7 linked regions of the Homo sapiens genome follow. The protein of the gene in region 2 purifies or fractionates together with the protein of the main gene of each other region. This does not show direct contact. Each region holds a gene or a part of one and is shown on either strand. Other genes may lie near its edges. The genes, in order: NRBF2, TAF12, ATL3, ZDBF2, ATXN7L2, MON2 and CEP43.

What was found.
Region 1: the proteins of TAF12 (region 2) and NRBF2 purify together in Homo sapiens (affinity purification with mass spectrometry; one large-scale study listed by BioGRID and IntAct). This does not show direct contact.
Region 3: the proteins of TAF12 (region 2) and ATL3 purify together in Homo sapiens (affinity purification with mass spectrometry, with the first as the bait; one large-scale study listed by BioGRID). This does not show direct contact.
Region 4: the proteins of TAF12 (region 2) and ZDBF2 purify together in Homo sapiens (affinity purification with mass spectrometry; one large-scale study listed by BioGRID and IntAct). This does not show direct contact.
Region 5: the proteins of TAF12 (region 2) and ATXN7L2 purify together in Homo sapiens (affinity purification with mass spectrometry; one large-scale study listed by BioGRID and IntAct). This does not show direct contact.
Region 6: the proteins of TAF12 (region 2) and MON2 purify together in Homo sapiens (affinity purification with mass spectrometry; one large-scale study listed by BioGRID and IntAct). This does not show direct contact.
Region 7: the proteins of TAF12 (region 2) and CEP43 purify together in Homo sapiens (co-immunoprecipitation; one large-scale study listed by IntAct). This does not show direct contact.

The regions. Positions count from the first base shown.
Region 1 is NC_000010.11:63,139,828-63,143,327, forward strand, and holds part of NRBF2 (nuclear receptor-binding factor 2), read left to right. Parts: intron 1-3,500. UniProt on the Homo sapiens protein: May modulate transcriptional activation by target nuclear receptors. Can act as transcriptional activator (in vitro). Involved in starvation-induced autophagy probably by its association with PI3K complex I (PI3KC3-C1).
Region 2 is NC_000001.11:28,615,568-28,619,067, forward strand, and holds part of TAF12 (transcription initiation factor TFIID subunit 12), read right to left. Parts: intron 2,464-3,500; coding exon 2,386-2,463; intron 1-2,385. UniProt on the Homo sapiens protein: The TFIID basal transcription factor complex plays a major role in the initiation of RNA polymerase II (Pol II)-dependent transcription.
Region 3 is NC_000011.10:63,654,377-63,657,876, reverse strand, and holds part of ATL3 (atlastin-3), read left to right. Parts: intron 1-3,500. UniProt on the Homo sapiens protein: Atlastin-3 (ATL3) is a membrane-anchored GTPase that mediates the GTP-dependent fusion of endoplasmic reticulum (ER) membranes, maintaining the continuous ER network. It facilitates the formation of three-way junctions where ER tubules intersect.
Region 4 is NC_000002.12:206,291,663-206,295,162, reverse strand, and holds part of ZDBF2 (DBF4-type zinc finger-containing protein 2), read right to left. Parts: intron 3,153-3,500; exon of another isoform or gene 3,101-3,152; coding exon of another isoform or gene 3,047-3,100; intron 1-3,046.
Region 5 is NC_000001.11:109,486,905-109,490,069, reverse strand, and holds part of ATXN7L2 (ataxin-7-like protein 2), read right to left. Parts: intron 3,064-3,165; coding exon 2,853-3,063; intron 2,553-2,852; coding exon 2,266-2,552; intron 1,688-2,265; coding exon 1,605-1,687; intron 1,224-1,604; coding exon 970-1,223; intron 788-969; coding exon of another isoform or gene 730-787; exon of another isoform or gene 141-729; coding exon 1-140.
Region 6 is NC_000012.12:62,598,401-62,600,976, reverse strand, and holds the end of MON2 (protein MON2 homolog), read right to left. Parts: 3' UTR 501-2,576; downstream 1-500. UniProt on the Homo sapiens protein: Plays a role in regulating membrane trafficking of cargo proteins. Together with ATP9A and DOP1B, regulates SNX3 retromer-mediated endosomal sorting of WLS away from lysosomal degradation.
Region 7 is NC_000006.12:167,019,897-167,023,396, reverse strand, and holds part of CEP43 (centrosomal protein 43), read right to left. Parts: intron 989-3,500; coding exon 762-988; intron 1-761. UniProt on the Homo sapiens protein: Required for anchoring microtubules to the centrosomes. Required for ciliation.

The sequences.
Region 1 (3,500 bases), on a different chromosome or scaffold from region 2:
AGACGACAAGGTAATACAACAATGTGGGCCTGGTATGGTAGCTCACACCTGTAATCCTAGCACTTTGAGAGGCCGAGGCAGGTGGACTGCTTGAGCCCGGGAGTTCAAGACCAGCCTAGGCAACATAGTGAAAACCGGTCTCTACCAAAAGAAAAAAAAAAATAGCTGAGCATGGTGGCACATGTCTGTGGTTCCAGCTACTTGAGAGGCTGAGATAGGAGGATCACTTGAGCCCAGGAGGTTGTGGCTGCAGTGAGCCGTTATCATGCCACTGCATTCCAGCCTCTGGGTGACAGAATGAGACCCCATCTCAAAAAAAACAGCAAGGAAATCATAAGGAAGAGAAAATATAGTTCTATACTATAGTTATCAATACCATAAGTTTATGTCAGCTGTTTACAAAACGAATCATCTGTCAGAAATGATGGGCAACCACAGCTGTAGACCTCAATCTAACGTAACCCATCAAGCAATTAAAAAAGAATGTGGGAAGTCCCACAGAATCATATGGATTGCCTAGGAAGTACACAGAGGTGGGACTGCTTTATTGTGAATTTCTTTGAATTACCAGAGAAACATGTTTATGGACTTACTACCCTTTTCTTTTTGAGACAGTATCTTCCTCTGTCCCACAGACTAGAGTGCAGTGGCGTAATCACGGCTCACCGTAGCCTCAACCTCCTGAGCTTCTGATCCTCCTACCAGTCCCTCCTGTAGCTGGGACTACAGGTGTGCACCACTACACCCAGCTAATTTTTCTATTTTTTGTAGAGATGGGGTCTCACTATGTTGCCTATGCTGGTCTCAAGCAGCCCTCCCACCTCGGCCTCACAGAGCGCTGGGATTATAGGCATGAACCTCCGTGCCCAGCCTATTACTTTTTTTTTTTTTGAGATGGAGTCTCACTCTGTCACCCAGGCTGGAGTGCAGTGGCGCAATCTCGGCTCACCACAACCTCTGCCTCCCAGGTTCAAGCGATTCTCCTGCCTCAGCCTCCCGAGTAGCTGGGACTACAGGTGGGCGCCACCATGTCTGGCTAATTTTTGTATTTTTTGTAGACATGAAGTTTCACTATGTTGGCCAGGCTGGTCTCAAACTCCTGACCTCGTGATCTGCCTGCCTCGGCCTCCCAAAGTGCTGGGATTATAGACGTGAGCCTCCGCTCCTGGCCTCAGCCTAGTGCTTTTAATGGCTGTGATTCTACCAAGAACAGTATTTAAAGAGAGACTAGTTTTAATATGTGTAAACTGTAAAAGTTGTTTTAAAAATGAGAAGCACCACCAAGATAGGTTTTCTGTAAAATCTTCAGTTTATAAAAAATGCAATTTAGCTGGGCATGGTGGCTCATGCCTATAATTCCAGCACTTTGGGTGAGTGAGGGAGGAAGATTGCTTGAGCCCAGGAGTTTGAGACCAGCCTGGGCAAGATATCAAGACCCCACCTCTACAAAAAATAAAAGTTAGCTGGATGTGGTGCCGTGTGACTGTATTTCCAGCTACTCAGGAGGCTGAGGTGGCAGGATTGCTGGAGCCCAGGATATTGAGGCTGCAGTGAGCTATGATTGCACCACTCCACTCCAGCCTGGGCAACAGAGCAAAACCCTGTCTCAAAAGTAATTAAGATGAAAATTTTTTTAAAATGCAATTCAGTCTAGACCCAACTATATTGTCAACTTCTTGATGGCAGGTACTTCCATCACTTCTATTGTCTTTTGTAGTACTTAACGAGGGCTATATCGAGTATGTACCAGTACCAGGCACCATTCTAAGCACTGTGATGTTTCAACTAGTTTAATTTTCACAAACTCTTTTGTTTTTGGTGCCATCAAATTTACATAAGCAGACAATAACTTTCATTTTAGAGATGAGAAAACTGAGGCAGATAATTGGGAAAGCCGGGCTTATGTGTCTCATATGTGGTCAAACTGAGATTTGAACGTTGGCAGTCGAGCTCTATAACGAGTTTGCTGTGTGTCTGATAAGAACATAGTAGGAAATGTACTTAAAATACGAAATTTGATTGCTCTGGTGCCAAATAACCTAGAGGAGATGGTGTGTTTTTGTTGAGCTCAGTAATAATCTGAAACTATAATGAGATTTAACTCCTAAATTGGCAGACTGGTTAGAGATTGGACTCTACATGGGGATGTTTTAAGGGAGCTGGGAGAGCCATGAGGACCTGCTCTCACTGTTTGAGAACTTTTTATTTTTTTGGTGTTCAATTAAGAATTTATTCCGTCATCACAGAGTTTGAAGTTTAATTATGGAGCTACATAAATATCCATACTAGAAGAAAGTGATTGAAATCATCAGCGACACACACAGATAGAAAAAAGGTGTTAGAATGAAGTAACCTGAAATAGCATCTCATCCCTGCTTCTTAGAGTGTATCCATAAGCCAGCAACTTTGGCTTTACCTGGGTGGAATCTCAAGCCGTACTCCAAACCTCCTGAATCAGAACCTTTGTTTTTTTTGTTTTTTTTGTTTTTTTTTGAGATGGAGTTTCACTCTTGTTGCCCAGGCTGGAGTGCAATGGCACGATCTCAGCTCACTGCAACCTCTGCCGCCCTGGTCCAAGCAATTCTCCTGCCTCGTCTTCTCAAAGTGCTGGGCTTACAGGTGTGAGCCACCATGCCCGGCCTTTTAGAATCTGTATTTTAACCAGGTGATTTGTATTTTCATTAAAACCTAGAGCCTTATTGCTTATTGATTTAATACCACTTGCTTTAATAGTATCAAAACATGTTCATTAGAGAAATTAGGTTAATCATAACTGCTTGTGCATACTAGCTTTCTTCATCATGTACATTCTTTTCCCAAAATACCTGTATAATTTGTGGGTACTAGAAAATGCTCATGTGTTCAGAATGTATTTTTTGCTCAGTCCAAGTCTCCAGGTTAAAATTCATCCATTATTTTAAGCCCCCAGTCATTTCTTTTCTTTCTTTCTTTCTTTTTTTTTTTTTTTTTTTTGAGGCTGTCTTGCTCTCTTGCCCAGGCTAGAGTGCAGTAGCACGATCTCAGCTCACTGCAACCTCCGCCTTCCAGGTTCAAGCAATTCTTGTACCTCAGCCACCTGAGTAGCTGGGATTACAGGCATGTGCCACCATGCCTGGCTAATTTTTGTACTTTTAGTTGAGATGGTGTTTCACCATATTGGCCAGGCTGGTCTTAAACTCCTGGCCTTGAGTGATCTGCCTGCCTCAGCCTCCCAAAGTGCTGGGATTACAGGCATGAGCCACTGCGCCCAGCCTACCCAGTCATTTCTTGTGACCTATTGTTGTTCCCAGGCATATGTTAAGACTTAGAGGAAAGTTTGATTACTATTTAAAAAATAAAAAGTATCTGAAATCCTGTAATTGAAAGGCACGAATCTTGTCTTTAAGATTGTTGCTTCTTTCCTACAAAAATAGAAGTGGGGAAAAGGCAAACAGCAAGGCATTGCTGGAAGTGCTGTTTTCTACTTTTGTCTTCACCTGTGTTTTATACTGAGTATGATT
Region 2 (3,500 bases):
TCTCAGGAGGCTGATGCAGGAGAATCACTTGAACCCGGGAGGTGGAGGTTGCAGTGAGCCAAGATCATGCCGCTGCACTCCAGCCTGGTCAACAGAGCGAGACTCCGTCTCAAAAAAAAAAAAAAAAAAAAAAAAAAAAAAAAAAGAAGCTAAGGGATAAATCCTCAAGATAGGAGACTGGAATTTTCTCCGGAGATATTGAATGATTCCAGAGAAAAGACTTACAGATACTGACATTTAGGGAATCTTCCATTAGGAAGGTTGACTTGTGGACAAATTACTCTGAAGTAAAGTCTTGTGGTCTGCTAGAGTGAACCGAGACCAGCTCATAAAAGCCAACTGTGTACCTCTTTTCCCAAGTTTGTATTTAGTGATGTCATGTTGGTAGAAATAGTTACACCACAGAAATAATAAAGCACTGCAAATCGGGCATTTTTCTCCAAAGAGCTAGTTGTTAAACATTTACCCATATATTACTGGGCCAAATCCATCAATTATACTTCAAATCAGCTTTTCAGTGAGTGATTCTTTAAGAATGAATAGCCAGGGTCGGGCATAGTGGCTCAGACCTATAATCCCAGCACTGTGGGAGGCTGAGGTGGACAGATCACTTGAGGTCAGAAGTTTGAGACCAGCCTGGCCAACATGGTAAAACTTTGTTACTACTAAAAATACGAAATTAGTCAGGTATGGTGGTGTGCACCTGTAATCCCAGCTACTCGGGAGGCTGAGGTGGAAGAATCACTTGAACCTGGGAGATGGAGTTTGCAGTGAGCCGATATCGCACCACTGCACTCCAGCCTGGGCAGCTGAGCAAGATTCTGTCTCAAAAAAAAAAAAAAAAGAAAAGAAAAAGAAAAACAGTAAGGAAAGTTATATGGACCAGCAGGCGTGATAGCTCATGCCTGTAATCCCAGCACTTTGGGAGGCCGAGGTGGGTGAATCACCTGAGGTCAGGAGTCCGAGACCAGCCTGGCCAACATGGCAAAACCCCATCTCTACTAAAAAATACAAAAATTAGCCAGGTGTGGTGGCACATGCCTATAATCCCAGCTACTTGGGAGGCTGAGGCAGGAGAATCACTTGAACCCCCGGGATGCAGAGGTTGCGGTAAGCTGAGATCCTGCCACTATACTCCAGCCTGGGCAACAGAGCAAGACTGTCTCAAAAAAATAAATAAATAAATAAATAAAAGTTATATGGCACACATTGAGTAGTGTAAAAAATTCTCATCTACCATAATAGGGAATCAACAGAATCTTATAAAATTGGCCAGGCACGGTGACTCACACCTGTAATCCCAGAACTTTGGGAGGCCAAGGCAGGTGGATCACCTAAGGTCAGGAGTTTGAGACCAGCCTGACTGACATGGAGAAACCCCATCTCTACTAAAAATACAAAAATTAGCCAGGTGTGGTGGTGCATGCCTATAATCCCAGCTACTCAGGAGGCTGAGGCAGGAGAATCGCTTGAACCCAGGAGGCGGAGGTTGCGGTGAGCCAAGATCGCGCCATTGCACTCCAGCGTGGGCATCAACAGCGAAACTCCGTCTCAAAAAAAAAAGAATATTATAAAATTAATGGGTCAAAGAGTATCTTTTTAAGTATATTACTTAGAAATATAGAAGAATGTTACAGAAACAGCTAAAATTGTTGAAAGTGATTGCCTGTGAGCAACAGACTATGCCGTTTTTAACAGGCAAAAGTAGCAGCAGTTATTGGGTATAAAGCAAATTCAGATTTGTCTGTGCTCTTATTTTATTTATTTATTGCAGTGGTACAATCTTGGCTTACTGCAACCTCGGCCTTCTGGGTTTAAGAACACTTCAACCTCCCTAGTAGCTGGAACTACAGGTACACACCACCACGCTCAGCTAATTTTTTTTCTTTTTTTTTTTTTGAGATGGAGTCTTGCTCTGTCGCCTAGGCTGGAGTGCAGTGGCATGGTCTCGGCTCACTGCACTCCGCCTCCCAGGTTCACTTCATTCTCCTGCCTCAGCCTCCCGAGTAGCTGGGACTACAGGCGCCCGCCACCATGCCCGGCTAATTTTGTTTTTTGTATTTTTAGTAGAGACGGGGTTTCACTGTGTTAGCCAGGATGGTCTTGATCTCCTGACCTTGTGATCCGCCCACCTCGACCTCCCAAAGTGCTGGGATTACAGGAGTGAGCCACCACACCTGGCACTCAGCTAATTGTTTAATTTTTTGCAGAGACAAGGTCTCATTATATGGCCTAGGCTGGTCTTGAACCTCTGGGTTCCAGCAATCCTCCTGCTTTGGTCTCTCAAAAGGCATGAGCCACTGCATCTGGCCTGTTTGTGCTCTTAACCACTATGCTATACCGGTTCTCAGGGACCAGTTTCTGGGGTACCCAACCCCACCTTACCTCCTCCACATCTTCATCCAACTGCTCATTAGGATCCACTTCTCTTACTAAGTCCTGTAATTTCTTCTTGGTCAATACCTAAAGTTAATTGGAAGAAGACTTTTCAACCAGATATTAAGGAAATGAAACAAATCATTACCCTGTAATGAAGAAAGGCTGTCAAATTGTTGGTTTTAGTTTCCACTTTCCAATGAGTTCACAGTCTGGCCTACCTGACTATGCTGCTGTAAGACTACACTCTCAAGACAGAAGTAACTTAGGGAAAGGTGGAAAGAGCAGTTTGAAGACAGGCCAGCATCCAGCTGTCAGGCAGTATATTTCAGCCTCATGTCTTTTTCTCACTGTGTCTCTTCACATGTAGAAATTTGCAATTCTCTGACCACCACAAATTGTACCATGCCCCTTGCCTTTAGACAAGTTTGTTTTTTTGTTTTGTTTTGTTTTTGAGACAGGGTCTTGCTCTATTGCCCACTGGAGTGCAGTGGCATGATCATGGCTTACTGTAGCCTTGACTGCCAAGCTCTCCCACCTAAGCTTCCCAGCTAGCTGGGACCATAGGCACGTGCCATCATACCTGGCTAATTTTTTTTTTTTTTTTTTTTTTTGAGAGACAGGATCTCGCTATGTTGTGCAGCCTGCTCTTGAACTCCTGGCCTCAAGTGATTCTTCCACCTCAGCCTCCCAAAGTGCTGTACACACTCTTCCTCTCTTCTTCCTTCTTGCTTAGCTCATGGTGCCTCTTTCTGATGCTTTTCCTAGCCCATCCCAGTAAAGGTAACCACTTACTTCCTCCTTTGGCCTCTACTGTATCCTGTGTACCCTTTATCATTGTGCATATTTATATACTTCCCTGTTTCTGACTTAATAGGCTAAAAGCTCCCTGAGGGCAGCCTTCATAAAGGAAATGTCATGTTACATACGTATGCCATTAAAAAGTAATCAAAAGAAAGCCAGGCACAGTGATCTGTGCCTGTAGTCCCAGCTACTCAGCAGGCTGAGGCAGGAGGATCACTTGAGGCCAGGAGTTAGAGACTGCAGTGAGCTATGATTGTGCCACTACACTCCAGCCTGGGGAACACAGGAAGACCTCATGTCTTAAGAAACAAACAAAAAAA
Region 3 (3,500 bases), on a different chromosome or scaffold from region 2:
TCAAAAAAAAAAAAAAAAAGCCAATGGCATTTTTAGTTTCATATTGTGTTTTCCACTGGTATATACCTGTTGATTTGTTTGTGTCTTTTATGAACTGTTATTTTCTGAAATTTTTTTTCAATAAAAGGAAGGAAGATGTGAAAACAACTTTTTATCAAAGTGAATGATTTAAAATTAATACATATTGATTGTTTTTAAGATTCTTAAATAAAATGCATGAATATAGTTTAAAAGGTCAGGTACTACTGTAAGGCTTCTAACAGAAAGCAGCTGTCATGTGTGTTATTCTCCTCTCTACCCAGTTTTCACTTCCCAGAGGCTGATGCTCTTATGTGTTACCACTTCTGTTCTTTACTTCCTTACTCCTGTATGGGTGGCACAGACCTGGCTGTTGTTCTGGGAGTTGAGCAGGGAAATGGCATTGGGGATCTCACTGTTCAGAAGGTGGGCATTCACTATCCCCTAGCTATCAGTAGGGCTTCTTAGCCCCAGTCTCATCTATGCCTTGTAAGCTATGGGCATAGAGCCTCTCCACAGATTTCTTTGTAAGGATCGGGAGGGGTAAGTCATGTGTTTCTTATACAGACTTTCATCCATTACTTCTGTTTTTAGCCCAATCCTATAAGCATGCCTTCACACCTGTTTGTCCTTTTTTTTTTTTTTTTTTTGAGATGTAGTCTCACTCTGTTGCCCAGGCTGGAGTGCAGTGGCACCATCTTGGTCACTACAGTCTCCGCCTCCCAGGTTCAAGCAATTCTCCTGCCTCAGCCTCCTCATTAGCTGGGAGTACAGGTGCACACCACCATGCCTGGATAATTTTTGTATTTTTAGTAGAGACAGGGTTTCACAATGTTGGCCAGGCTGGTCTGGAACTCCTGACCTCGTGATCCGCCTGTCTCAGCCTCCCAAAGTGCTGGGATTACAGGGGTGAGCCACCACACCTGGCCACCTTTGATATTTTGAAGTGCTGGAGTGTTGGTACTGAATTCTTTTAGCTTTCATACATCTGAAAAATCTTTATTTTGCCTTTGTTTTGGAAAATATTTACTCTTAGTGTAGAGTTCTAGGCCAACGTATTTTTCTCAGTACTTCAAAGGTGTTGCCCCTTTGCCTTTTTGCTGACATTGTTTCTTTTTTTTTTTTTTGAGAGGGAGTCTCTCTGTTGCTCAGGCTGGAGTGCAGTGGTGCGATCTCGGCTCACTTCAACCTCTGCCTCCCGGGTTCAAGCAATTCTCCTGTCTCAGCCTTCTGAGTAGCTGGGACTACAGGCGCGCACCACCACGCCTGGCTAATTTTTGTATTTTTAGTAGAGACGGGGTTTCGCCATATTGGTCAGGCTGGTCTTGCACTCCTGACCTCAGGTTATTCACCTGCCTCTGTTTCCCAAAGTGCTGGGATTACAAGCATGAGCCACTGTGCCCAGTCTGCTGACATTGTTTCTGACAAGAAATACACTGTTATTCTTATTTTTGTTCTTTTGTACCTAATCTGTCTTTTTTGTCTGGTTGCTTTTTTCTTTAAATTAAAAAAAATTTTATTTTCGTGGGTACATAGGTATATATATTTATAGGGTATGTCTGGTTGCTTTTAAGATTTTATCACTGTTTTTGAGCAAATTATTATGTGTTTTGATGTAGTTCTTTTTTTTTTTTTGAGACGGAGTCTCACTGTGTCGCCCAGGCTGGAGTGCAGTGGCGTGATCTCGGCTCACTGCAAGCTCCGCCTCCCGGGTTCACGCCATTCTCCTGCCTCAGCCTCCCAAGGAGCTGGGACTACAGGCGCCTACCACCACGCCCGGCTAAGTTTTTGTATTTTTAGTAGAGACGGGGTTTCACTGTGTTAGCCAGGATGGTCTCGATCTCCTGACCTCGTGATCTGCCCGCCTTGGCCTCCCAAAGTGCTGGGATTATAGGCGTGAGCCACTGCGCCAGGCTGATGTAGTTCATGTTATTTGTATGTGGGTTTTGTTGAGCTTCTTGAATCTGCAGATTTATAATGTTTATCAAATTTGGACATTTTAAGGTTATTATTTCTTCAAGTTTTTTTGGTCTGTTACTCCCTTTGGAGACTCCTATTACATGTGCCTCTTGCTGCTTGAAGTTGTTCCACAAGATGTTCATTTAAAATTCTTTGGCCGGCGCGGTGGCGCACGTCTGTAATCTCACACTTTGGGAGGCCGAGGTGGGTGGATCACCTGAAGTCAGGAGTTTGAGACTAGCCTGACCAACATGGTGAAAACCCATCTCTACTAAATACAAAAAATTAGCTGGGTGTGATGGGTCATGCCTGTAATCCCAGCTACTTGGGAGGCTGAGGTGGGAGAATCGCTGGAACCCGGGAGGTGGAGGTTGCAGTGAGCCGAGATCGCACCATTGCACTTCCGCCTGGGCAACAAGAGCTAAACTCCATCTAAAAAAAAAAAAAAAGGCCAGATGCGGTGGCTCACGCCTGTATTCCCAGCACTTTGGGAGGCTGGGGTGGGCGGATCACCTGAGGTCAGGAGTTCGAGACCAGCCTGGCCAACATGGTGATGCCCTGTTGCTACTAAAAATACAAACATTAGCTGGGCGTGGTGGCGCCCACCTGTAATCTCAGCTACTTGGGAGGCAGAGGCAGGAGAATTGCTGGAACCTGGGCGGCGGAGATTGCAGTGGGATTAGGAAGAGTACTCAGTCTTGCCTCAGTAATGAGGAATAACAACACTCTGGTTCCATTTAACAAATCTAAACAGCAAGAACAGAAAAAACCAGAGTTTCCAAATTACTTAACTACATCTCAGAATAAAGCTAGATATTTTATAGGAATGCAAAAATAACCAGCACCCAACAAGGGAAAATCCACAAGTCTACATCCTATCAAAAATTTGCAGACATAAAAGAAGCAGAAAAATATAACCCAAATGAGGAGAAAAATCAATCAAAACTGTCTCAGAACTAACACAGATATTAAAATTAACAGAAAACAACTTTTTTTTTTTTTTTTAGACAGTCTTGCTCAACTAAAAATACAAAAATTAGCCGGGTATGGTGGTGTGCACCTGTAATCCCAGCTACTCAGGAGGCTGAGGCAGGAGAATCGCTTGAACCTGGGAGGTGGAGGTTGTGGTGAGCCGAGGTTGCGCCATTGCACTCCAGCCTGGGTGACGAGCAAAACTCTGTCTCAAAAAAAAAAAAAAAATAGGCCAGACATGGTGGCTTAGGCCTGTAATCCCAGCACTTTGGGAGGCCGAGGTGGGTGGATCATCTGAGGTCAGGAGTTCAAGACGAGTCTGACCAACGTGGTGAAACCCTGTCTCTACTAAAAATACAAAAATTAGCCGGGCATGGTGGCTCATGCCTGTAATCCCAGCTACTCGGGAGGCTGAGGCAGGAGAATCGCTTGGACCTGGGAGGTGGAGGTTGCAGTGAGCCAAGATCGTGCCATTGTACTCCAACCTGGGCAACAGAGTGAAACTCCGTAATCCCAGCACTGTGGGAGGCTGAGGCGGGCGGATCATGAGG
Region 4 (3,500 bases), on a different chromosome or scaffold from region 2:
TTTAAAATATCACGGTAAAGGTGTTAAAGAACTTAAATCAGGTTGCTAGCTCCTGACCACTGTGTTACAACTCTTGGAATTATTTTCTTCCATGTTGACTTCAGAGGTCCATGCTAGTGCTCCTAGCCCCAGGAACAATCTAAATTATGATGCTTTCAAAATCCTGCTACGAAACTCTCCACTGTCCAGGACCCATCACCAGAGTTAGACTGCCTGGTGATTAAAGGGGACAAATGCACAAGGAAACAAATAAATATTCAGTTAAAATTCAACGTTACTGAATAAAGAATATGTGGTACATATACATCATGGAATACTACACAGCCATAAAAAATGAGATCATGTCATTTGCAGCAACATGGATACAGCTGGAGGCCATCATCCTAAGCAAATTTACACAGGAACAGAAAACCAAATACCACATATTCTCACTTTTAAGTGGGAGCTAAACATTAGGTACATGTGGACATAAAGATGGGAATAAAAGGCACTGGGAGACACTGGGTCAGGAGAGACAGGGCAGGGGGAAAGGGCTCGAAAAACTACCTATCAGGTACTATGCTCACTAGCTGGGTGATGGGATCATTTGTACCCCAAACCTCAGCATCACACAACATACCCACGTAACAAGCCTGGACATGTGTCCCCCCGAATCTAAAATAAAAGCTGAAATTACAAAAATAAATACTAAAATCCAACCTTGTCCTCTCTCTGCCAAGGCAAAAAGAAAAAAGCAATGTGAATAGAAAACTTCATTTACATCCTATAAGGTATCCGTTCCTTTAGATTTTTTGAATTGATGTATAACATAAAGTACACAAATCATATGCATACAGCTCAATCAACTATCACAAAGTAGACACATCCTTACCATCTATCCATAAAAAGTTGACAAGCATCCAGAAATCCCTGTAATGCCCCATCCCAATCCCTTCCCTTTTCCCCAAAAGTAACTATTACCTAACTTTTAATACTATAGTTTTGAAATTTTCTGAAATGTATATAAATGGAGTCATATAATATGTATGCTATTGCATTCAGCTTATTTTACTCAATATTATATATGTGATATTCATACATATTGGCTGAATCTGTTCATTTTCTTTTCTGCATATTCATTGTATGAATATGCCATATCTTATTTATTCATTCTACTCTTGATGGACATTTGTGTTGTTTCTAGCTTTTGGCTATTACTAATAATACTATGAAGAACCTTCTTGTATGTGTCTTTTGGTGCCAATGTGCATGCATTTTTGTTGAGTGCATTATTAGGAGTGAAACTTCGGGGTCATAAAATTTGCATATGTTCAGCTTTAGTACTCCCTACCGACCAGTCTTCCAAAGTGGCTGTACAAATTTATATTCCCTACCAGCAGTATTCCTATCTCCTTATCAACACTTGCTATTGTCAGTCTCTTTAATTTTAGCTATTGTAAGGATGTTTATTGTTATATCACTGTGGCCTTAATCTGTAATTTTTGCAATAGCTTTTCATATTTACTAGCCATCTGGATATCCTCTTTTACATTGGGTCTGTTCAAGTCTCTCTGTTTTTCAAATGGATGTTCTGTCTCTTCCTTATGGACTTGTAGAAATTCCCTATTCAGGACACCAGTTCTTTGCTCAATTATATGTGTTTCAAGTACCATCTTCCTCTCTGCAGCTTCTTTTCACTTTCTTAATCATCTTCCATTGTTTAACTTTATTGCAGTCCGGTTTTATCTTTTTTTCTTTGTCAGTGCTTTTTGTGGCCAGAAATCTCTCTTTACCATCAAAGTCATAGAGATTTTCTCCTGTTTCTAGAAGCTTTACTATTTTGGCTACAACATGTAGCCAAATCATAGTCTACTTCTAACTGATTTTTATATGCAGGGTGATTCGGCAATAAAGTTTCATTTTCCTCTCCATATGAATATTCAATTGACCCAGTATCATTTATTGAAGAAAGTCCTGTCCTCACTGCTGTGCAGCACCTTTGTCACAAATCAGACATCCATAAATGTGTCTGTTTCTGGAATTCCTGGTTTTTTTCCATGGTCTTTCTAACTCTGCAGCAAAACTGCACTATTTTAAAGACTAAAGACTAAAGTTTCATAAGTTTTAGTATCTGATAGAGGACATCTATTCACTTTGTTCTTAAGATTATCCTAGTTCTTCTGAGCCTTTTACTTTCCCACATTTATTTTTGGAATTGGCTTTTCATTAAAAAAAAATACTTCTCTGAGATTTTGATTGAAATTACATTGGATAAATATAACAATCTAGGCAGAACTGACATGTTTACAATATTGATTCTTCAATCCATGAACATGAAAATTTCTTTCAAGGTTTATAGTTTCTAGTTTAAAGATCTTACATTTTCTTATGTTTATTCCCTAGATTTTGATGTTCTTTGATGCTATTGTAAATGATTTTTTATCTCATTTTCTGCATGGTATCTGTATATAAAAATACACTTTCTTTTTACATTAGTGTAACAACCTTTTAAAATCACTTATTGATTCTAATGGTTTATCTAGATATCTTTTTAGTTTTTATGTCCACCATCATGTTGTGTATAAATAATAGTTTTATTTCTTCTTATCCAATCTTTATCATTTTTATTTTTCTTTCCTTATTTCTTTGACTAGGACCTCTGACAAAATATTGAATACAGTTGTAATTCAAGCATCAAACCTATTTTCACTTAATGTATTACTGATAGAGTTGTATTTAACTTTTTCAATCTGTTACTCTTGCCTATACAACTATCCCTTTTCCTCTCCTTTCTTGTCTTCTTGTGGACTACGTTTCATCATTTCAATTTTTCCTTTTCTGTTAACTCTGTAGTTAGTTACAGACTTTTCATAGTCTATTTTGGTAAGAGATTACAATGAGCAACCCTGAACTGTCAACGCCTAAAATTACTTGTTACTTTTATTCTCTTTATAAACAATGCAAAGTCCTTAGAAATTAACATCATTTACTCCCCTCCCAATTTATATGCCATTGTTGTTCATCCCACAAGACAGTATTCACTTAGATTGATTGCCTACATATTTACCTTTCCACTGTTCTTCATTACTTCCTGTATCTCTGAGCTTCCATCGGGAATCATTTTCCTTCTGCCTGAAGAACTCCTTTTTAGTTTTTCCTTTAGTGAGAGTCTGCTGGTGACAAATTCCCTTAATTTTTATTTCCTGAAAATAGTTTTATTTCACCTTCCTTATTAAAAGATATACGTATTGAGTAGAGAATTCTAGGTGGCAGTTGTTTTCTTTCTTTTGGCTTCCATTGTTTCTGTTAAATACTTCACTAGATATGGGCCCCATATTACTTCACTGCTTTTACAGTTCTCCAAAGCCTTGAAATACAAGGCTGCAAACATTGTCAACAAAATATTATTAATAGCAAACCAAATCCAGCAACATATAAAAAGGATTATACACCATGACCAAGTGGGATTTATCCCACAGATGCAAAATAAGTTTAACATCTGAAAACCAATCAATCTAACT
Region 5 (3,165 bases), about 81 Mb from region 2:
CAGATGTCCCCTCCTCCTCACTCTCTTCGCTGGAGGCCTGGGTCCCACCCCGGGGCATGGGGAAGGGGAACAGGCCTGGGTCCCCATCACCACCACAGGGGCCTTCATCATCCAATTCACTCTCGGAGGAGGCCCGGGACCTGGAAGGGCCAAAAGGGATGCCAGGGGAATGTGACTGTTGTGGGGTCAGAGTAGGGGCATCCTTGAACCTGCCGAGCTCAAAGAGCAGGGCACCAGGGCAGACACCCTGCAGGGCAATCAGAAGAGGACAGAGGGAAGGGAAGGACAGGAGGGAACGACACAGCTCACAGAGTAAGAGACAGAGAGACTGCTCCCAAGGGATTCTCTCCCCAGCCCCTTCACCTCCCAGCCCCTTCCTCCTCAGGGGATAATCTGCTGCAGATCCGCCTCCTCCAGAAAATCTTCACAGTTAAAACTGTACCCAGCTCTGGTCAGCCCAGTCAACTCGCTCAACCCCCTTCTTGCATCACATATTCCTGTGAGCCTGTCTGTGAGCTGAGCCTGTGTTTCGTGTCTGCCCCTTGTGTGACAGGCAGAGATGCATGTGTGTCTCCTTCAGCAAGTCAGGCTCTCCCTGGGGTCCGGCATAGCCTCTGCACGCGAAGGGGCCAGTGAGTGAATACACATAGGGCTGCCTTGCCCAGGAGTGTGACCCTTTCAGCTCCCCAGTGACAAGTTTCGGTCTGTTGGAGGCAGCTGGGAAAATGTTCATATCCTGAGTGTTGGATCTGGCACACTGCCGAGAGGCTGGGGTGCTGTGGTATGCCTGGTTGGAAACAGGGGAGTCTCCTGCTTCCACACCACTGTCAGGAGCCCCAGGAATACCCCCACACTCAGGGCTGAGGGAGTGCCTCTTCCAGGACACTCCCTGAGCCTGTTTCCAGGGGCCCCTGATGGCTTAGGGGCCAAGTACCCCCAGGTGAGGTAGGGGTTGGATTCTAGACGTACCTGGGCAGTGCACAGTATGGGTAGGTCTGCTTGGCACGAACAGAGAAGGTGCTGCTGGGAGCAGCCACCGCTGCTACAACCTGGACTGAGGAGGGGAGCTCCTGGGAGGGGCGCTCGAGAACTTGCTCCTTGCGCCCTGGGCTCTTCTCCTTGGGAGACTCCCCTTTGCGGGAGTTGGCCTTCAGCTCTGCCACCAGCACGTCAAAGTCCTTGGCCCGGCCCTGGACTTCCCGGCGCTGGTGTACTGAGTGGATCTAGAATACAGCAGAGTGGAGAGCTGGGGAGTAGGTATGAACTGAGAAGGGGTGAGGGACGGCAGGGTGCTTTGGCCCGGGCAAGTTGGGGGGCAGGGAGAGAGGTGGGCATATTTGCAGCTGTGTTCATGTGTCTTTGTTTCATTCCCCCATGGGGCCAAAACCCTCCTTTGGGATGGGGGAATCTGGAAACTCCCTCCTTCCCACTGTTCCCACCTTCTGCCCAGGAGGGGCATACCCATCTCCCCTTCCCTTGGGTGGGCCTAACTGCCCTCCCTTAAGCTGGACCTTCAGTAACATCGACATTCCTCTCTTTGCCCAGGGAAGGAGTGGGCAAGCCCTGTGCTGTCCTCCCTCACCGTGCAGTGGGAAGGGGGTTACCTTGCAGGTCAACAGGCGGGTACAGATCTTTTTGGTCTCTGGATTTATTACCCCACACTGCCTGTTGAGGTCGCACTCCTTCCCTGTGGGGAAAGCACTTCCAATGAACCTCAAGACCATTTCCAGGAGTTTACAGGAGGATTTGGCCGCTTCCTGCCAAGGGCCTGAGAACTGGTACTAAGGCAGAAGAGACTCCAGCCCTCAGCCTGGGGCTGTACCTTCCAGATAAACTTCTGGGCATCAACATCTCCTTGCTGGGTGTGAGAACCATCCCTATCCCAATTTCAGGTGCGCCTTTTGGGACTTCAAGCCCAAAGCAGGGCAACACACATCAAGAAACAAAAGCAGCCATGGGCATCTGGGAGGCCAGAGAAGCCAGCTGTGAGATGTGTCTGGCTGGCGCCCTGGATCTAGGTGAGAAAAGAGTGAGAAAGAACTTCACCTCCTGGGCATGGGCTCCCTCAGCCTTGATCAGGAGACACAGGATGGAGAGAAGCTTCCCAGGAAGCAAGCAGGTCAAGAGGTGACGGGGCTCCTATACCCTACAACCTGTGATGGCCAGGCCCATAAACCTGACCTCCTCCTCATCCAGCCCAAGGACAAAGCAGCCCAAAGGAGTCCCCACTCTACATTCTGGACCCCCAAGACCACAACTACTCACGAGCCATCTTCCGGTGGGTTTTAGGGGGCAGCCTGGTCCCACTGGGCTCCTTTTCAGGAGGGCTGCCTTCAGCCCAGTGACTGGACCCCTCACTGGGGATGATCTCGATGTTCTCTCTGCCAGGAGGTTCTTTAGAAGGGGGAGCCATGGGAGGTTTTCCAGGGGAGTCCTTGGTGAGGCCCCCTGGCTGGCTGAGAAAAGCAGAGGGTGGGGCCACCCTGATTCCATGTCCATCAGGCTTCGGGAGACTGGACATCTTCTCCAGATTCACCACAGGCACGAAAAGGCTACACACAGAGAGAGGGGGTTGGCTGAGGGAGGGGAGGGGAGGCGAGGCCTGGGGCCTGGACTCTAGCCCAGAGCCATCTCTTTCCCAGCCCTGGAATTTGGGTGGGCTCCAGCAGGGGTGTGAAACACGGGAAGAGGAGACCCCATCTTCCCTGGAATATATGGAAGGAAGCTGCAGACAGGACGGCTGCCTCCTGCTGTGAGGAGTATGCCTTGACCCAGGGCTGTCTGTATTGATGTCAGCCCATCCATGGGTCAGGGTCAGGGCCAGTCTTAGAAAGTTTCCAGCCTCTCCTTACCAGAGGTTGTCCTTCTGGGTCTTCTCAGGAGGCTGGTGGCCACGGCTCCGGGACCCCTGGCCCTTCTCCCTGGAGGAGGTTTTCGTGGAACCTGGGGCCCTACAAGCTGGGCCCTGCCCATTCACTACATGGCATTTCTGAGAGCTGGCAGGGGCTGGAGGTGGGGGTGGGGCCCGGCCATAAAGCTTGCTGAGGGGCCCATGTCTTCTTTCTGTCACCAGGAGGTGGAAAGAATAATCAAGGTGAGTGGTATCACCACTTCCTTCCCCAACCTAACCATGTCCATAGACTCACATGAGAGAATCTGAGTTTC
Region 6 (2,576 bases), on a different chromosome or scaffold from region 2:
CCTTGGTTTTATAATTTATTCTTAAATCACTCCAGACCCTGCCATCTCAAATCTAAACTACTCTCCTTGGCTTTCAAGGAATTTTATGAAGGGACCCAATCCTTCACAACCAACCTTGTTTCACACAATACACCAAAATGCACTGTTTTCTATTTCACAGATATGCCTTGCTCACATTATCTTGCCTGAAATCCCTCCGTATATCCTTTGAACTCATCCAAAATCTAGGTAGCCATCAAGACTAACTTTAATTTCTATCTTAACCACTGAGCTTTTTCATTTCTTTAAAAAACTTCCTTCTGACTACTAACAGCACTATTAACCTGAACCACAGAAGACTAGGCTAAGGTTCCTATTTTATGATTTCATTTTAATCTGTACTTGTCTTTTACTGTACTTTACATACTTGTTAAAAGGTCTGTATTCCCTATAAAACTGAAAACTCCATGAGGACAGAGACTAACCCAATGCTTAACGCAAAAACAGGGTCTAAACAGTTGTTAGTGATACACCAGTATTTAATTGTATAGTCTTGTATCCAGTATTATTTTATATATGCGGTTTCCTTGACTAGCTGTAATAAGCACTTGAGAGCGCTCCAAATAGCTTCTGTCATACAGCAAGGACACAGTTATTAGCACACAGTAGATTCTTAACATTCAGTGGTTGTCTGGTGAAAGGCAAAAAATTGGTCCCTATTGTGGGAAGACATGGATTTTCTGGCCATTCTTGAATGATGTGTGCCAAATGTGTTTTACTTCCCTAACCACCTAGTGGTGATGATGCTCCAGGCACAGCGCTTTAGAACACACTACATTTTGAATTCTGTTAAATACCACGATTAACTCCATTTCACAGAGGAGGACACCAAAACAGGTTAATTAACTTGCCCAAGGTCACACATTTAGTAAAATAACAGAGTTGGGATTTGCATCTAAGAAGCCTGGCCCCAGACTCTGGGCTCTTAACCACAATGCTGTTATTTATAACATAACTTCTTAAAACACACAACATATGTTTTAAATAGATAAAATGTTTTAAACCTGGACCAATAATAAAAACCCAATGCAACTTTCAAGGTCATCGTTAAGACAAATCTTTTTTTCACAGTATTTTTAGTTCTTTGTTATGTTCAAGTATATTTGTCCCAGTGCCCATCATAGAAATAGTAATTGCCTCAAGAGTATTTTTAGTTTATTTTATAAGTCTTGGATTTTAATGGACTGTAAAACATGAAACTATTGTACTGTAGTAGAAAGAACTGCTTTTGAAAAAGCAAGACATAGTGATCCACCTGGACTTTAGGTATGTGACTCTAGGCAGCTCACTTCAACCCCCTAATCCTTGACTCTTCTGTAAAATGAAAATAACTTCTTTGCAAGGCTACTTTGAGGATTAAAGGGAATAATATAGGCAAAGCCTTGGCCTGCACATACTAGGTACTCCAGAAATGGTGGTTAAAATTACGCATCAGAAAAATTATTTTAACTATATCTGACTGCAGTACACACTGAGTAACGTACAAATTCTTGTTTTATACTTTCATTACATAACAAAAAAAGGAATTTTAATGCAAATTATTTTCTTTGAGAGGTAGAGAGATAGTCTGGCATTGATATGGACAGGCAGTTTCAAAACAGCTTCACCAAATTAAAAAAAAATGCTCATAAGATTAAGATAATCTAATCTACATCAGGATTTTTACTTGACCTAGCATTTTTACTTAAAGTTCCAAATCTTTCTTTCTAAACTATTGAGAGACACTTCGTGTCTTCTGTTTATTATTTTTTCATTTTATATATTAATGGTTTTAATAAAGCTCTCAAGAACATTTCCCCTTTACTCTATAATTTTTTTTTTCCCAAAGTGATCATCCTAAACATGTGACTCACTACTCGTAAAGTCTTTAAACAGAGTAAGTGATGTGGGGTGTCAATAATGTTTCAGACTTAACGGGGATGAGAAAGCAAACACAAAGTATATTCAAGAAAAAAATGAATCACTGGTCAGATCCAAAGGTAAATTATCAAAGTGGTTATGATTTTAAGTTATAAAGAAACACTAGTGTTGCTGGAACATAATTAAAAACCTGGAATCATGCTTAATGTTAGCTGTAAAACAAATAAACAATCTGTACAATCACAGTTATAACTATATAGCTTTCATGAAAAATCTATCCTAGACTACAAAGAAAATTTGGGTTTGAGGCCAATACAATTTCATGATTATAATACATAACTGATACATCTCAACAACATAAAAATTGTAAGGAGAAAGAGTAACAACAGTGGTATTACTTTCAAGAATTGTGTTGGGAACTAAAAAATAATTTCACAAAATTAGATAAATATATCCAGTCTGACATAAACACCATATGGTAGCTGCCTTAAGAGACAGGAGTTGTATGTTACGTGTTAAATTATGACACAGAGGTAGTAGTAAGAGATGGAAAGCAAATGAAATTTGCACAGTTGGGTCTGAAGCCTAATATTTTCTTTTTCTAGATAAAAATAAAATTGCAATATAGGTATGGAGTATTTTTCTCCATCTAGTAAACATCATAGAAGGAAGCAGTT
Region 7 (3,500 bases), on a different chromosome or scaffold from region 2:
TGCCACTCTGTATATTACTTTTCTCTAGCACTTACTGGCAAATCCTTTTCCATCATTAACGGCCTCCTAACTGGAAACTCTAAGACCAACCTTCCCCAGCAACCTCAGGATCCTTCTGTAATGTACGCCAGATCAAGATCCTCAGGGCTTCCAGTCTCAAAGAAAAGCCGTCCAGCTCCTCATCTCTGAGTCCACCTCATCCGATCCCCATCTTGCTCTCTCTGCTACCCCCAACTCGCCTCCCTGCTGTCTGTTTCCTCTCCCCAAAGCTCCATCAACCCACGGCAACTCCCTTACCTCCTCTAGCTCTTTGCTCACTGGGCACCTCCAAGTGAGGCCCCCTCCAATTTGGACAGCTGACATGCACCTGCCCTGACCACACACTCGGGCTCCCATCACTGCTCTGCTCTCATCACCCCACACACTGCAGCATAACCCTCATTGCCTGACTCTGTCACCAGAGCATGAGCTTCCTGAGGGCAGGAGTCTTCCCTCTTCTATCATTGCTGCACCCCACCCTGGAACAGCCCTGGCAAGTGGCTGACACTCAATCTACACTTACTTGTTGGAATAAATCATGTCTAGGTTTTTCTAAAATCTGGGATTGTTTTACAACATGAAAGGCATTAACAACGCATAGTCAGATTTATGGATCCAATAATTATAAACCTTCCATAGTTCATTATTTTTTAACTATAAAATGAAAACATTTATCTTATTTTTAAACCCCTAGTCTCATAGCTCAAAAACCATTTACTCACAAACCGTAAGTTTTCTCTGGCTTAGGAATGGGATCATCAAAGAAAGAATCTCCTTCCATATCATCTTCATCTGGACAAAGGCCAGCTTTGTCTTTGCCATCTAAAGTTCTGTTGCTTAGAAAAGATCCAATTTTTGTTTCATGGGACAGTAAGTGAAGGCTGCTTTTGCTCTTGGGTTCTGACAAGGAGACACTTGTATCACTCTGATTGGCCTCATCATTGGCCTTCTAGAAAGAGAGGGAAAGAGAAAAGGCCTCCTTGGTGAGATAAAACTTTAAGATATTTTCAATAATAAAAGAAGTCTCATGAGCATAATCAAACCTGTGTGTGTGCAACCTTTGTGTGTGTGTGTGTGTGTGTGTGTGTGTGTGTGTGTTGGGGCAGCTCTCAGCAGCGTGAACTGCAGAGCAATGCCACAATTCATCACTCCATCCCCAGGATTCCTAACATGGCAAACTTTCAAAGGGGGAAAAATATTAGAGAAATATATTAATACCATTCCTTTCCTCTTTCCCTAAATGGAAATACCTTTAGTATACCTATCCCATTTATAAACACTTTCCCATTGAGAAACAATTTCCCATCTCCTCTTCCATATGTCATTGCTTCATAAGTTATCTTAAATTAATACATTTTCAACTTGAAATCAGGAGAGATCATTATTATTAAAGGAGAAAAGAAAGATTATTTCATATGAATGAACCAAGCATTAAAGTAGTCATCAGTAAAAATAGCAATTTTCTATCCAGTGCTAAACACAACAGGCATCAAGGTGAAAGGCGCTGCCTTCAACCACTCATATTTCTAACATAAACCTTTGCTAATCAAAGTAATTATCTCAATTCTAACTTCCAGGGTAACTTCCTAACCTATACCTCATTTTGATGTCCATGGACATATATACGTGTGTGTGTGTGTGTATTTCTCTATGTATATTAACATCAATGTTATAAAAAAATTCTGAATCATCCTTATCCATGCCCTTGGATACAGAGTGATGTTACCACTTTTCTTTTTTGTTTTCAGGGAGTCCTAACCTTCACAGCCGACTTTCACTCCATTCTTGGTCAGATTTCTTTCTGCCCTTAGACGGGTCTATGTTAATAATAATAATGAAAACAAAAAATAATGCTAGTAATAATAAAAGCAGCTGACATTTATGGAGAACATTCAAATGCTTCACCTTATCTCACTGAATCTTGAAAATGGCCCTAGGATCTGGAGATGGCTTTCTATCTGTGGATATAAATCAGGAAACACAGAGACAGACATTGATGTCACTTGTCAAAGTCTCCAGAGAGTTAAGTGGTCAGGTCAATATCAAAGTCAAAGCCTGCTTCCAGAGGTTAACTCAATATTTATGCTATTAAGCTAAATTATAATGAATTTGTGGGCTTTATGGGTTAAAAATGGCAATTTCCCAAAATTCAGCCTTGCATACTAAAGAGAGCAGTATTGTGTAAAATACCCGTGGAATAATAGAAAAAGCACTCAACTGAAACAAGGAATCTGGAATGTAGTCCAAAATTATTAACTCCATTTTTTTTTCTTTTTTTTTTTTTTCTTTTTTAAGAAACAGGCTCTCACTATGTCATCCAGGCTGGTCTTAAAACTCCTGGGCTCAAGCAGTCCTCCTTGCCTCAGTCTCCCAAGTAGCTGGGTTTATGGGATTACAAGCACAAACTACACCCAGTCGTATAATCTTTTTTTTTTTTTTTTTTTTTTTTGAGACAGAGTCTCGCTCTGTCACTCAGGCTGGAGTGCAGTGGGGCAATCTGGGCTAACTGCAACCTCCGCCTCCCAGATTCAAGCGATTCTCCTGCCTCAGCCTCCTGAGTAGCTGGGATTTCAGGCGCGTGCCACCACGCTTGGCTAATTTTTGTATTTTTAGTAGAAACAGGGTTTCAACATGTTGGCCACGCTGGTCTCGAACTTCTGACCTCAAGTGATCCACCCGCCTCGGCCTCCCAAAGTGCTGGGATTACAGGCGTGAGCCGTGAGCCACCATACATGGCCCGTGTAATCTTAAGTAAATTAATTTCCTAGGCATGAGTTTCCTCAAGAATTGAACTAGATTCATATTTTTCAGATCAAATTATATCTAGGAAGGGATGGATGGCTGAGAAAGAATTAAAGAGTAGTAACTACTGAAGCATGGTGACCAAAGTCTGGGTTAGACATTACCGAACAAGACGCTCCTGAAGGATGGTTTCACTTTTCATATGGGTACAGACAGAATGCATTATGCATGTCTTATGATATACGTTTACATCTTTACACCAGGTAGAGGTCTTGACTAGTTGACAGTAGGCAAGATATATGCTGTGCAAATTTTATTGCCTTCTAGAGAGCTACACATTCCATGTTATTAATATAAATTAATGATTATAAAGAGATGTCTGAAAAAATAAATAGCAAGTTATAATTTTAGACAACATATTTTCAAAGGGATGGAAACTTTCAAAAATTTCCTAACAACTTTCTTGACATTTTCCTGGTATTATCAAATATAGAAAAATATTATGTAATTCACAGCAGTTGTAATTTCTGATTTTTACACTGTTTTAATAATGGATTTATGTCTTTTTAAAAGAATATGCATTTGGAAATAAATACCCTGATGTGATATTTAAACATATGTACAATGACACAGCCTGTGGCCACGACAGATTCTCTCCTTCTAAACACTCATGAGAAAGTGCCAAAGAATAACTGGCATGACAGAAACTGAAAAATGTA